2 linked regions of the Homo sapiens genome follow. The main gene of each other region encodes a partner of the protein of the gene in region 2 in a complex. Each region holds a gene or a part of one and is shown on either strand. Other genes may lie near its edges.

Evidence for each region.
Region 1: the proteins of MMAA (region 2) and MMUT are in contact, whole or in part, in a crystal structure (PDB 8GJU), measured with the Homo sapiens proteins. Residues at the interface, in NP_001362573.1 of Homo sapiens: Arg98, Ala99, Ala102, Glu103, Thr106, Glu109, Ser110, Thr111, His112, Ser182, Ser186, Gly187, Gly188, Ser189, Leu190, Leu191, Lys194, Thr195, Met197, Thr198, Ser201, Arg202, Met204, Tyr207, Ile208, Arg209, Pro210, Ser211, Pro212, Arg214; in NP_000246.2 of Homo sapiens: Lys496, Glu609, Arg610, Glu611, Gly612, Arg613, Arg614, Arg616, Ala635, Thr636, Ala639, Asp640, Gly642, Phe643, Asp644, Val645, Asp646, Ile647, Gly648, Pro649, Leu650, Phe651, Gln652, Glu656, Gln659, Gln660, Val662, Asp663, Ala664, Asp665.

The regions. Positions count from the first base shown.
Region 1 is NC_000006.12:49,460,250-49,467,230, reverse strand, and holds the start of MMUT (methylmalonyl-CoA mutase, mitochondrial precursor), read left to right. Parts: upstream 1-3,977; 5' UTR 3,978-4,128; intron 4,129-6,981. UniProt on the Homo sapiens protein: Catalyzes the reversible isomerization of methylmalonyl-CoA (MMCoA) (generated from branched-chain amino acid metabolism and degradation of dietary odd chain fatty acids and cholesterol) to succinyl-CoA (3-carboxypropionyl-CoA), a key intermediate of the tricarboxylic acid cycle.
Region 2 is NC_000004.12:145,636,381-145,643,405, forward strand, and holds part of MMAA (methylmalonic aciduria type A protein, mitochondrial precursor), read left to right. Parts: intron 1-1,219; exon of another isoform or gene 1,220-1,320; intron 1,321-2,694; 5' UTR 2,695-2,759; coding exon 2,760-3,198; intron 3,199-5,982; coding exon 5,983-6,105; intron 6,106-7,025. UniProt on the Homo sapiens protein: GTPase, binds and hydrolyzes GTP. Involved in intracellular vitamin B12 metabolism, mediates the transport of cobalamin (Cbl) into mitochondria for the final steps of adenosylcobalamin (AdoCbl) synthesis.

The sequences.
Region 1 (6,981 bases), on a different chromosome or scaffold from region 2:
AGAAATAAAAAGCAAAACTGGTCTAACAGAGTTTGAGAAGTACTGTTAACAATGAAACCTACTTGAGGCACTAGACTATAGCACAAAGTTTCTCAACCTCAGCACTATTAACATTTTAGATGGATCATTCTTTGTTGTGGAGACTGTGGTGTGTATTGTAGGATGTTTAGCAGCATGCTTGGGTCTACGTAGACCGTCAGATGCTAGAATACTTCCAACCCCTGAGTAGAGCCAATCAAAATTGTTTCCAGACATTGCCAAATGTCTCCTGGGTCAAAATCAACCCAGGTTGAGAACACTACCATAATGGTTAAGAGCAGTCCTGCAACGAGGGTAAATTGTTCAAGCTCCAAATCTAGCCCTGCCACTTAATTAACTGTATATCTTTGGGCCAGTAAATTAACTCATTTTCCCCATTAGTAAAACGATTAATAAAAGTACTAACATTAAAGGCTTTTGTAAAGCAAAAATGATGTAACAAAGAATATATAAACCACCTAGAACGGTATTTGAGACATAGTAAGAATCCAATAAACAAAAGACATTGTTTCTATCACTTCTGGGCTACTCACAGTGCATATAAAAATGAATAGGTATTTTGTCCCATTCTTAGATCCAAGGGAAACCACAGCTTAGTGATAGTGCACAGGTAGAGACAGATATGAAAATAATTACTATGTGTATTTATAAATGTTATAAAGAGGCAAGTGAGCGAATGACTGTCTTAAACTGGTTTGTGCTATGGGTAAGAATGTACAGGCATAACTCTTTTTATTGTGTTTCACTTTATTGAGCCTCGCAGACACTGTATTTTGTTGTTGTTGTCTTACAAACTAAAGGTTTGTGGCAAGCCTGCACTGAACAACTATATTGATGCCATTTTTCCAACAGATTGTGCTCACTCTTCACATTTCTGTGTCATATTTTGATAACTCTCACAATATTTCAAACCTTTTCATTATTATATCTGTTATGGTGATTGATGTTACTCTGTAATTGTTTTAGGGCACCATGAACCATGCCAATATCAGACAGAGAACTTAATAGGTAAATGTTGCGTTGTGTTTTGACTGCTCCACCAACTGGCTGTTCCCTGCCTCTCTCCCTCTCCTTAGGCCTCCCTATTCCCTGAGACACAATGATATTGAAATTAGGCCATTTAATAACCCTACAATGGCCTCTAAGTGTTCAAGTGAAAGCAAAAATCACACCTCTCTCACTTTAAATTAAAAGCTAGAAATGTTTAAGCAAGGTGAGGTAGGCATGTCAAAAGCCAAGATAGGCTGGAAACTACACCAGTTAGCCAAGCTGTGAATGCAAAGGAAAAGTTCTTGAAGGAAATTTAAAGTGCTATTCCAGTGAAGACATGAATGATAAGAAAGCAAAAACAGCCTTATTACTGATAGGGAGAAAGTTTGAGTGGTCCGGGATTGAAGATCAAACTAGCCACAACACGCCCTTAAACCAAAGACGAATTCATGGCAAGGTCTTAACTCACTTCAATTCTATGAAAGCTGAGAGAGGTGAGAAAGCTGTAGCAAAAGAGCCTGAAGCTAGCAGAGCTTGGTTCCTGAGGTTTAAGGAAGTAAGCTATCTGCATAACATGAAAGTACAAAGTGAAGCAGCAAGTGCTGATGCAGAAGCTGCAGCAAGTTATCCAGTTCTAGGTAAGATAATTGATGAAGGGGCTACACTAAACAACAGATTTTCAATGAAGACAAAACAGCCTTCTATTGGAAGATGCTATCTAGGACTTTCATATCTAGAAAGAAGTCATTGCCTGGCTTCAAAGCTTCAAAAGACAGGCTGACTCTCTTGTAGGGGCTAATATGGGTGGTGACTTGAAGCCAATGCTCATTGACCATTCTGAAATATCCTAGGGCTCTTATTCTTTTAAATCTACTCTGTCTGTGCTCTGGAAATGGAAGAACAAAGCATGAGTGACAGCACATCTGTTTACAGCACGGTTTACTGAGTATTTTAAGCCCATCTTTGAGACCTACAGCTCACAAAAAGATTCCTTTCAAAATAATACTGCTCAATGACCACGTACTTGGTCACCCAAGAGCTCTGATAGAGATGTACAAGGAGATTAATGCTGTTTTCATGTCTGCTAACACAACATCCATTCTGCAGCCCATGAATCAAAGAATAATTTTGACTTTCAAGTTATATTATTTAAGAAATACATTTTGTAAAGCTATAGCTGCCCTAGACAGTGATTCCTCTGATGGATCTGGGCAAAATAAATTGAAAACTTCTGGAAATGATTCACCATCCCAAATGCTAGTAAGAACATTCATGATTCACGGGAGGAGGTCAAAATATCAACATTAACAGGAGTCTGGAAAAAGTTGATTCCAACCCTCATGGATGACTTTGTAAAGGTCATGACTTTGTTCAAGACTTCAGTGGAGGAAGTGATGAAAGATCTGGTGGCAATAGCAAGAGAAATAGTGGAGCCTGAAGATGTACCTGAATTGCTGCAATCTCATGATAAAACTAGTGGAAAAGAAGTTGCTTCTTATGAATGAGCGAAGTTCTTGAGATGGAATCTACCCCTGGTGAAGATGCTGTGAATATTCTTGAAATATCAACAAAGAATTCAGAATATCACAAAACCTTAGTTGCTAAAGCAATGGTAGGGGTTAAGAGGATTTACTCTAATTTTGAAAGAAGTTCTACAGTGGGTAAAATGCTTTCAAACAGCATCACATGCTACAGAGAAATCTTTAGTGAATGGAAGAGTCAACTGCTGTACAAAATTCATTATTTTGTTATTTTAAGAAACTGCCACAGCAACTCCAATCTTCAGCAACCATCACCCTGATTGGTCAACAGCCATCAACATCAAGCAAGACCCTCCACCAGCAAAAAGATTAGGACTTGCTGAAGGCTGAGATGATTAGTAGCATTTTTTAGCAATAAAATATTTTAAAATTACAGCATGTAATTTTTTTTTACACATAATGCTATTGCACACTTAATAGGTTACAATACAGTGTAAATACAACTGTTATATGCACTGGGAAACCAAAAAAATCGTGTGACAGGCTTTATTGGTCTGGAACCGACCCCGCAATATCTCGGAAGTATGTTTGTACATTATTCATAGAAAAAGTATTATTCTAATAACATTTTGAAATATTTAGCCAAAAAGTAGAAAAATGAAGCATCCAAGGGAAAACAGTAAAACTCGGACGGCAGGAAAGCTCGGAAAAAACACAAAAAACCTGGCGTGTTCAGGGACAGGATAATCCAGCGAGGCTTTTAATGTGTATAGGAGAAGTGAAAAGAAATAAGGCTGGTACAGTAGTTTGCCGCCAGACTATATGCTTTAGGAGAGAGGGAGGCATTCTAGGTTGTCTTGTTTTTCTTACCAGCTTGTTGATACTCATGGGACTCAATTACCTCAATTTAGACCTCTATGTGGGCACAAGAGTGAGTAGGACTCCTGGAGAAACACAGACACTAATGTCCAAGGCTGCACTTGACTTCACTAGTGCCCGCGGGAGAAATTTAGCAATGAGGATGAGCCATGAGGATGATTCGGGAGAAATAGGAAGTATTCATGGCTTTGCTCCCTCCCCCCTAATCAAACATCTCAATCTCAGGATCCTAAGGGCAGATCTTTTAGGACATCGGGCATTTCCCCGTAAGCAATCCCCCCTCGCTATCCTCAAATGCAAACTGCGGAGTCTGCCACAAACGCGTTGGCTTTAAAACTCATCCCTGAACTTTAGATCCACCCAGCCGGTTAAGGATATCACGACTCACCACTGATTCTTCTTGCACCCTTCTGAGAGCCGCGCTTAGAGTAATTCGCGCCCAAACATTCGTAAACAGAGGAGACCCGGAAGTGGGTGGGAAGAAAGCGGAAACGGGCATCTAACCCTACCCCTAAACGTCATCAGGAATGCGCCCATGAGAGCGCTATTAGATTGGCTGGAGGGAGGGCGGTGTCGGCCTACGCCCCCAGAGTCGTCCGGCTGACGCTGGCGGTGGCGCGGTTTGTGTGGGCTTGGTGAGGGCGGGGAGGCCTGGCTGTGTGGATGTCTGACAGGTGAGGCGGGGGACGCAGAAGTGCAGCCGCCCTCTCCCACAGCGGAGTCCAAAACAGGCCTACCAGTGAGTAGGACGTACACCTTTCAGATCGCTCCATTCTTCTGGCTCCTGTCCCTCCTCTACCCCTGTATTTTGAACTTTTGTCCTTTCTCTCCCGCTCTGTCCTTTACTTCTGTCTTCTTTACCTTCCTACTGTGACGGGATCCCACTCTCTGCCTTCTCCTTAGGTTTAGATTTTCACTTCGACCAACCTCTAGTTTTGGGCGAAGTCCCTGGCAATTCGGAGGTACTTCTGGAAAGAAGGTGCTTTTAATACTTTAGGGGCCATGTCGGTATCTTCTTTGGCCACTTAAGCACCCTGAACTGTTCCCGTTGGCAGAGGTCACTTTTTGTATGGTTCCAAAGGGATGCGCCTGCTTCATGGCTGCCTCCCTTCTAGGTTGTGGGTTATGTTATTGTCAGGGTTTTTCTAAGAGTTTTCGGGAATAAAAGTGATTTTCTGTGTGTAAACAGGATTAAGAGTGTAAACAGTGTTAAGAGTGAGAGGTAGAATAGAAAAGACAGGTCTAAATTGACATAAAAGCTTACATTACTAACTCGTTCTCAGTTTTATCTAGAAAGAAGGTGGTCTTAGGGAAGCTCGAAGCCCTGGATAACGTATGTGTGTAAAGTTTTAAACCACTTGATGATTTTCTGCCAATATAATTTTGTGTTTAATGATGTACTTATGCTAATATCAAATATAATTTTCATGCCCTATGTTTCCATCTCCAAACCCAACTAGTTGAACATCAAAGTACCTTCTTGAAGTATTAATGTGCAATCATACGTCAGCAGCCAAAGCTTGAAACTTATTGGTTCAAGAAATCTTTTTCTCACTGATTTGTTTTTGAGGTGTGGGGGTGGGATTAATCATTGCTCTTTAACTCATTTTAGTTGTCAGTAACATATTTGCTTTGCATGTTGCTTCTTTGAATGCTTGAGGCCTCTCTTGATGGTCTTCTGAGAAAATTCAGAGGTCGTATTGCCATCCGCAGTAGTTGTGTTTTTATCTAAAAATGGTGTCTGTTTCCAGCCTCCACCAATTCACATGTGATTTTCAGGAAGTCACTTAAACGGGGCTCTTTCCTATTAGTTGTTCAGATTTAGGAAAGCCCACGTGAAATGAGTGTGATATTTCCTGCCAACAGTTTAGTCTCAGGTGGTTTTCAAATTACCTTTTACAGGATTACTATTGAAACAGTTTAGTTGTTGCTTCATTATTTTTTTCATCCACCTTTTAAGCTAGTAAATGTAGTGGATGGCTTGCAAAAAGATGGATGACAAGGACCCCATGGATTTAAAGAATAAAAATCGTGCTAGTATTAAAAAAATGGAAGGTTTTTTTGTTTTGTTTTGAGACGGGGTCTCTCTCTGTTGCCCAGGTTGGAGTGCAGTGGCACGATCTCTGCTCACTGCAACCTCTGCTTCCCGGGTTGAAGTGATTCTCATGCCTCAGCCTCCTGAGTACCTGGGATTACTGGTGTGCGCCACCATGCCCAGCTAATTTTTGTATTTTTAGTAGAGACTGGGTTTCACCGTGTTGGCCAGGCTGGTCTTGAACCCCTGACCTCAGGTGATCCACCTGCCTCGGCCTCCTGAAGTGCTGGGATTCCAGGCGTGAACCACCATGCCCAGCCTTTTTTGTTATGTTTCCATTTAGACTTTGTTCTATGTACTTTTTACATAGTTGAACCTGTTGCACTTACAATTACGTGTCTTGAGTCTTTTACTTACTACTTTTTGAGTTTGTTTCTCTTTTTTTGGGAAACTATGCATAACACATTTTTAACTTTTTACTTATACATATATTTACAGAAACTGCATAAAACATAACTGTATAATTTGATGAATTTCCACAAACAGAATATATCTATGTAAGTGGCAATCAGATCAAGACCATTACCCCCAAAAGCCCCTCTCTTGCTCCTGTTGTATTCTAGCAACCATTAAGTAACCATTCTTCTGACTTCTGACATCAAAGATTAGTTTTGCCAGCTTTCTAAACATATTTTGATAACTACATGAAATTCTATCATTTGTATATGCTGTAATTCACTTATTCATATGTTATGAGATACTTACGATTTTCCTAAGTTTTCTCTATTACAAATAAAACTATAGGAAACATCTATTTTATATATTACTACAGAAGCTTTCCCAGGAGTAATGTTCCTCAGTGGAATGGCATAAACATTTCTGAAGCATTTCATGTATATTGACAATTTACTTTCCAAAGTAGTTAAAATAGTTAATACTGTCACCAGTGGTTTATGTCTCTTGTTTAACGACCCCATAATAAGTGTTGAGTATTGATTTCATTTAAGCTTTACTAAACTGATAGGTAAGAAGTGGTATGGAAAATAAAATTTGAAACTCCCTTTACTTGTTGCCTTATCCAGTATAAAACACATAGTATAGTGAATATATTAATGTTTGCATCTCAATATCTTTTTAAACAATGGGCTCTATATGTTTACGCTGTATGACTCTGACAAGTTTTAGTAATTCAGGTAAACAGTTTACGGCTTTGTGAGGTGGGATTTTGATCAAGCGACTTTATTTCTCTGAGCCTCAGTTTCTACATCTGGAAAATGATGACGCTGAACCCAGCAACCTAGTATAAAAGTCTATGCTAGTTATCCGGAATATGCAGCTCTAATGTTGGAGCAGTTTATAAACTAGCACAGAAGTAGATTATTGAAGAGGCCATTTAGCTCACCTTATGGGTTCTGGGATGAATTGTGTGCATATTAGTTAAATGCAAGGACTTTGAAACAGGCTGCATAGGTTCCAATCAATGCTGGCTCTTCTGTGCCTCAGTTTCCTAATCTGTAAAATAAGGATAATAATAGTACCTACCTCTTAGGGGTATTG
Region 2 (7,025 bases):
CGTGTCACTGCTTCTAGAGTTATCTCTTCAAAAGCAAAGTTGATTATGTCACCTCCAAAAAGGTCTCTGTCATTTGTCCACTGCCCACAAGACAAAATTTAATTTCTTGACCTCAGTTTACCTCCGGTCCAGCCTCATCTCCTATCAGTAGTTCCATATACCCTAGGCTTCTGCCTTACTGAATTTCTTAATTTTCTCTGAGATGACAGGGAAGAGACCAAGTCCCAACTCTGATTTTGCACATTTAAGTCCTCAGACTGGAAAGCCTGCCTCAACCTTCTTCAACATTTTTGTTATTTCAGACTCGGTCTTGACTTCAACTCCTCTGTGACTTGAATTCCCCAAGGAGAGTGAGCTCCTGTAATCTTGTCTGTGCCCATGGCACTTTGTTCTTTCTTTGATGTCACGTATTTTATTCTGTGAGCTCTTGAAGTGCTAGGATTAGGTTATTTAAGATAAGATAATGAACGAGGCATTGTACCTAAGAAAGTGTAGCAGGTCGAAAGATGGCCTTCAAAAAGATATGTCCACATCCTAATCCCTGGAACCTGTGAATGTGGCCCTATTTGGAAAAAGAGTCTTTGCAATGTAATTAAGTAACTAATTCTGTTACAGTAATTATGGTAATTTGTTACAGCAGCCATAGGGAACTAATATATTAATAGAAGGTTATGGTATAATGGCTGGAACATAATCAAATACTATTGTCATCACCATCAGTACCATTGCTATAGTCACCATTACTCTTATCACCTATCATGGGACCTGAAAAGTAGTATGTTCTTAGAAAATAGTGGTTGAATAAAAATACAGTTCTTGCCTGTGGGATTCCAGTCTATTGGTAGTGGTAGTGCTGCTGATGAGAATTGTGCTTAAAGGTGGTATTGAAAGAGAGCTTCCAAAGTAGACTCCCTCTTAAAGTTTTGTTTTAAATGTCTTTTTGTGTGTTTGTGTGAAAGGTGACATTAGATCTTTTAAAATTGTTTTTTAGAAACACTTTTATACATTTTTAATTGTCCTTTTAGAATAAGGCTAATTTTGTACAAATAGACATTATAATGCACCCCCCACCCCACCGCCCCATAGAGAAAAAGTTGTTGTTTTTGGAAAACTGATGAGCACTTATAGTTCTACCAGTTTAAAAAATCTTAAACTATTCTTTTTTCCCTAATAGAATGTTAAGAAGCTAAAATTAATTTCATGTTCATCGGCCTTGAAGTGCCATTTACAGGTATACCTTGGAGCAATAATTTATTCCACCATGCCACAAGGTGCTTGAAAATCAACCAAAATTTACAAATACTCATAAACCCAAACTGGGTGAGTTATATATAACTGTAAATTTTAGTTTGCTACTGGAAGAATTATTACCAGTGTTTCATAACTTGGTGTAATTAAAATAAAAGCTAAGGTTAATTGAGCTCTTACTGCATGGTAGACACTGTTCTAAGCTTTTTACAAGAATTGTCATTTTGCTCTCACAACCACTCTGCTTTCTTACCTATTCTCTTTACTCAAGAGGAAGCTGAGGCACAGAGTGGTCAAGTAACTTGCCTAAGGTTATTTTGGCTTAAGTGGCAGAGATTCATAGTGACCGCGGCTCATAACCTCTGCACTGCCCTGACTCGGCATACCATGTCAACTTTCATTTTTTAATACAATTTGAAGTAGAGAATATCAGTATATCATCATAAAAAAGATCCTTATGGCCGGGCGTGGGGGCTCATGCCTGTAATCCCAGCACTTTGGGAGGCCGAGGCGGGCGGCTCACGAGGTCAGGAGATCGAGAGCGTCCTGGCTAACACAGTGAAACCCTGTCTCTACTAAAAATACAAAAAATTAGCCGGGCGTGGTTGCAGGTGCCTGTAGTCCCAGCTACTCGGGAGACTGAGGCAGGAGAATGGCGTGAACCCGGGAGGCGGAGCTTGCAGTGAGCCGAGATGACGCCACTGCACTCCAGCATGAGCGAGAGAGTGAGACTCCGTCTCAAAAAAAAAAGATCCTTATCTAATTTCGTAGTGGTTCAAACTTTAGTGTGAATCTACAGGGATTCTGATTAGTGGGGCTGGGAATGTGCATTTTAAATAAGCACCCAGGTGGCTCTGACTATGCTTTGAGATACACCTACAGTTCACTTATGGCTTGTTTGTGTGCTTTAAGTTAGGCTACTCTTTGCATACATCTGTGTTCAAGGATGAGTCTACTGAATACAAACATGTATCTAAACTTACACCTGAAGTGCCCACCGTAGTAATCACATTTCTTTTTGTAGAGAGTGAATACAAGGCCAGCATCAGAGAGATTCATTTTTTTTTTTAACCTTTTGTATGAGCTTCAGAATCTGGTGTATTGACCTGAGGAAACTGTTAAGACGAATTTAAGAGAAAGCATAACATAAAGTTTCTACCCTAGTGGTATTTTATATATTGTTTTTATTAGAAGAAAAAGTGTAAATTCCACTTCGCAGTAGAGTAGTAGTTCCATTATTCGGGTTACTCTGAATATTAACTGTGGCCATGGAGGGAGTCTTCTCTTTTAAGTTTATTTAGTAAGAAAACTTTCACCCATTTGTACTACCAAAAACTCTGATTATGTGTGGTTTAGAATATGGGGGAAACACTAGGCTTTCAAATTTTACTACTTCAGTATTTTAGTTATATATCGAACTGGCTAACATGTTTTTCTTTCTTCTAGGGAGGTCACAATCACATTGAGCCAAAACGCATCCAGTGTTTTCTCCAGTTACAAATAAAACGAATATGCCCATGCTGCTACCACATCCTCACCAGCATTTCCTAAAAGGCCTTTTAAGAGCACCTTTCCGATGTTACCACTTCATCTTTCACTCAAGTACTCATCTCGGATCAGGAATCCCATGTGCTCAGCCGTTTAATTCTCTTGGACTCCATTGTACAAAGTGGATGCTGCTGTCAGATGGCTTAAAGAGAAAATTATGTGTACAAACAACCTTAAAGGACCACACAGAAGGACTTTCTGATAAAGAGCAAAGATTTGTGGATAAACTTTATACTGGTTTAATCCAAGGGCAAAGGGCCTGTTTAGCAGAGGCCATAACTCTTGTAGAATCAACTCACAGCAGGAAAAAGGAGTTAGCCCAGGTGCTTCTTCAGAAAGTATTACTTTACCACAGAGAACAAGAACAATCAAATAAAGGAAAACCACTAGCATTTCGAGTAGGTCAGTCTTTTTTGTGTGTTTTCTCAGTAAATATTTTTACAAATTCTCTGTATTCTGTTTTTTAAAAAAAAGTCTAAATAGTTTGCAATCGAATGGCGACTTTTTTCACAATATTTGGATGAATTTTAAATGAGTTTTCCTGGCAAATATTAGTTTTGTTAAGTTGAAAAAATTGCCATGACATTTGAACCAAGGCTATGTATTTTAAGAAAATAATATAAGATTTTTACTTTGGCAAGAATCTTGCTCTGGATCCCAGGACAGAAATATTCATAGGAAGAACTACTAGTGAGTTTACTCCTTTTTCTTTTAGTAGTCCTTCTGCTTAAATAGTTTAAAGTGAATTCCCTGTTTTGTTGTCGTATCAACTATAATTATCACGTTTGAAAATTCTGCCTCTTAGGTATTTCATTAGTCTTTCTATAGGCAAGTCTCACTTCCTTCAGGTACTTTTTATTGAGTTTCTCGGAGTGACTGTAAACCCAGCCTTCTCAATACCAAAATGTATTTTATTTATTTTTATTTTTTATTTTTGTACTTTATTTTTTGAGACAGTCTTGCTCTGTCGCCCAGGCTGGAGTGCAGTGGCGCGATCTCGGCTCACTGCAACCTCTGCCTCCTGGGTTCAGGTTCATGCAGTTCTCCTGCCTCAGCCTCCCGAGTAGCTAGGATTACAGGCATGCACTACCATGCCCAGCTAATTTTTGTATTTTTAATAGAGACAGGGTTTCACCATGTTGGCCAGGCTGGTCTTGAACTCCTGACCTCAAGTGATCCACCCGTCTTGGCCTCCCAAAGTGCTGGGATTACAGGCATGAACTACTGTGCTCAGCTATTTTTAGTCTCACTCTATCACCCAGGCTGGAATGCAGTGGTGATCATAGCTCTGACATCATGCTTGGCTCCAATATCATGCCTCCAACATCATCCTTGGCTAATTTTTTTTAGAAGTTTTTTGTAGAGATGGGGTCTCATTATGTTGCCCAGGCTGGTATCAAACTCCTGGGCTCAAGCAGTCCTCCCACCTTGGCCTACCAAAGTGCTGGGACTACAGGCATGGGCTACCATGCCCAGCCTATCAAAATGTACTTTAAGAAAGAGATCATATTTATTTATTGTCTGTATATTAGATGTTCATTTGATTTCTTGAACAATTTGACTTGGTTCTGAAATTGTTTTTGAAATTGTGCATTGTAAAACAATTTAGATATGTTTGACCAGCAGGAATTAAACAAGCCAGTTTAGGTGGAATGAGAATGTCCCACGGTGGTGAACTAGGTGATTTGAACCAACCCTCGTGCTAAAAACAACTTGTCTTGGTGGTTAAAGTGCAAAAATTTTGTGGAGAATGAGTAAATACTTTTAAAATTTCATGTTACATTACACCTTTGTCTCACAGTTTATTGGCAATGCAGACACAAAAGCCTCCTAGTTTTTAGGTTAATGGGCATAGATGCTTTAAGATAATTTCAAAATAGCTCACCAACCAATATTTATACCAGTCCCCATTTTTCAGACTTCTTAATCTTCTGCCCTTACTGAGGGATTCTCATTTTGAGAGTACTACCTTGGATGTTAATAATCTTTATGTATGGTAAACAAAGATAATAGCAAACTCCCGCAGAGAAATTCTAGGTATGACAAAGTGCCTACTTACTAAGATTTTAGAGAATCTGTGAAAAAATGTCTCAGAAATGTGTGGAATTAACTAGCAGTTCACAGATAACTTTGTAGTGCTATTCCAGTTCTTCCATCTTGATCTTATGAGGCCAGATAAACCTGTCTTTATTGCAGTTATTTTTTTCACCACCATAAGTAAAAGCAACAAATGTTTATTCAGCACCTAAAAAGGTGTTTAAGATAGTATTGGATCTGCCCCAAGAATTGTGGTAAAGAGTCAGGCATCCCATACACTATACATATTTTGAGTGTAGTTAGTTAAATGTCTATGTTTTATATATTTCATTTAACATACACTTATATGTCTCTTATGCCATGCACTGTTCTAAACATATTGCAGACATTAACTCATCTAATTCTTAAAACAACCTGAAGAGAGAGGTACTATTACTATATCTATTTTATTGCAGTGGACACTGAGGCATAGAAAGAGGTTAAGTAATTTACCCAAGATCACATAGCTCGTGGGAGGCAGAGCTAGAATGAGAACTGGCTGCGTGGCTTCAGGGTTTGTGCTCTTACCGGCCGTGCACTGCCAACTCTCCAAGTGGGGGAGTTTTCTGCTTTTCTTAACATAAATTATTTTTTTCAGAATTCAGTTTATATTCTTTGAGTTATGAGTGAGATGAAGAAAAAAGATGATCCCTTATAAATAGAAAATTGCTTTCTCAATCACTGGGAATTTCTAGAATAATGAGTTGTTTTTCCAGTGGGAAGAAGTATACAGAACTGAGGTAGGTAGAATAATTACTGATCATGATGAGAGGTGGGCAGATGTAGAAACTGAGCACATTAACAATGGAGACAATGAAGTCTGTCCAGAAAGATCTACTTTATAGTACAAAGGCAAAGCATGTTTTGTAGTTTTTAAAAGTGAATTTTGTGAACATTTGGAACCCAGGGTGTTTCCTTCCTATAGCCCCATTACTCAGGAATTAAAGAAACAGATTTTTATTTGCCATTTTAGGACATGTTGAAATATATTAATTGTGGTTTTAATACATTAGGGGAAATAGAAGGTAGTCTAATATTTTACTCAGTAAAACTGATCGTAGTTCTGATTTCATTTGTTTCATTGAATTAGAAGATCTCTTTCCACCGTAGGATTGTCTGGGCCCCCTGGTGCTGGAAAATCAACATTTATAGAATATTTTGGAAAAATGCTTACTGAGAGAGGGCACAAATTATCTGTGCTAGCTGTGGACCCTTCTTCTTGTACTAGTGGTGGTAAGTATGGCTGATTCTTTTTCAATTGCAGAGGTCTGGGGGCTTTCTGTTACAATTTAGTAGGAATTGGCACAGTTGGGTGACCTCTAACTGCTAGCTAAGTTTGGTCTCGCTAAAGGAAGGGAGTTCTGCAGAGTTAGGTGGAAGCTGAGAGAAGTAGTTTGGGAGTGTTGTACTCCTCAGAGGAGGCCAGCTTGTGGATAGCTCAGTGGGCACTCAGAAAACTGCGACAACAGGTGCCAGAAGTTGAAGATGATCAAATGCAAATTTCAGTCCTTCAGCTTCCATGCATAAGGCCAGGCCCCTCTTTGCTCCTGTTGTGTTTCCTGGCTGCATTAGCACCTGTGCAATTCAGAAAATAGGTCCTTACTCATGTGTCATTTTCCTCATAATGTTTTAACATCTCTTAAGCTTTAGAAAAACCTTACTGCTGTTTATAATTGTCAACTGTTTATATAATATGTTCAGTTAAACAGAAAGCTCTTAGAGGGGCACTGTAATATACTGCCATTCCCCTTACAGTATTTAGCATAGTACATTGTACGTTGCACAGAATGTTAAGCAGTTACTTTCTGATTTGATGTCATGAAGTCACTCAAAGTTTAATTTGCAGCTCATCAGCGATAAAATGAATATAAACTTAGTTCCCCAAAGGATCATTTAAAGAAAACAGAAAGCATACCATATAAACAGGAAAGGTTTTTTCTTCCCTTACCCCTCTTTATGATTTAAGCTTTTCATATTACAGTTACTCACTTAGCAAGTATTTGAGTGCCTACTATAGGTGAGGCATTGTACATGGAAGGTTCTTAAACTGTGTTATATAATGGTGAACAAGATACAGTCCTGGCTTTAGTGAGGTTTACATCTTATGCAGGAAACACAAACACAGGCCATTACAATACAATGTGTGTTGTGAA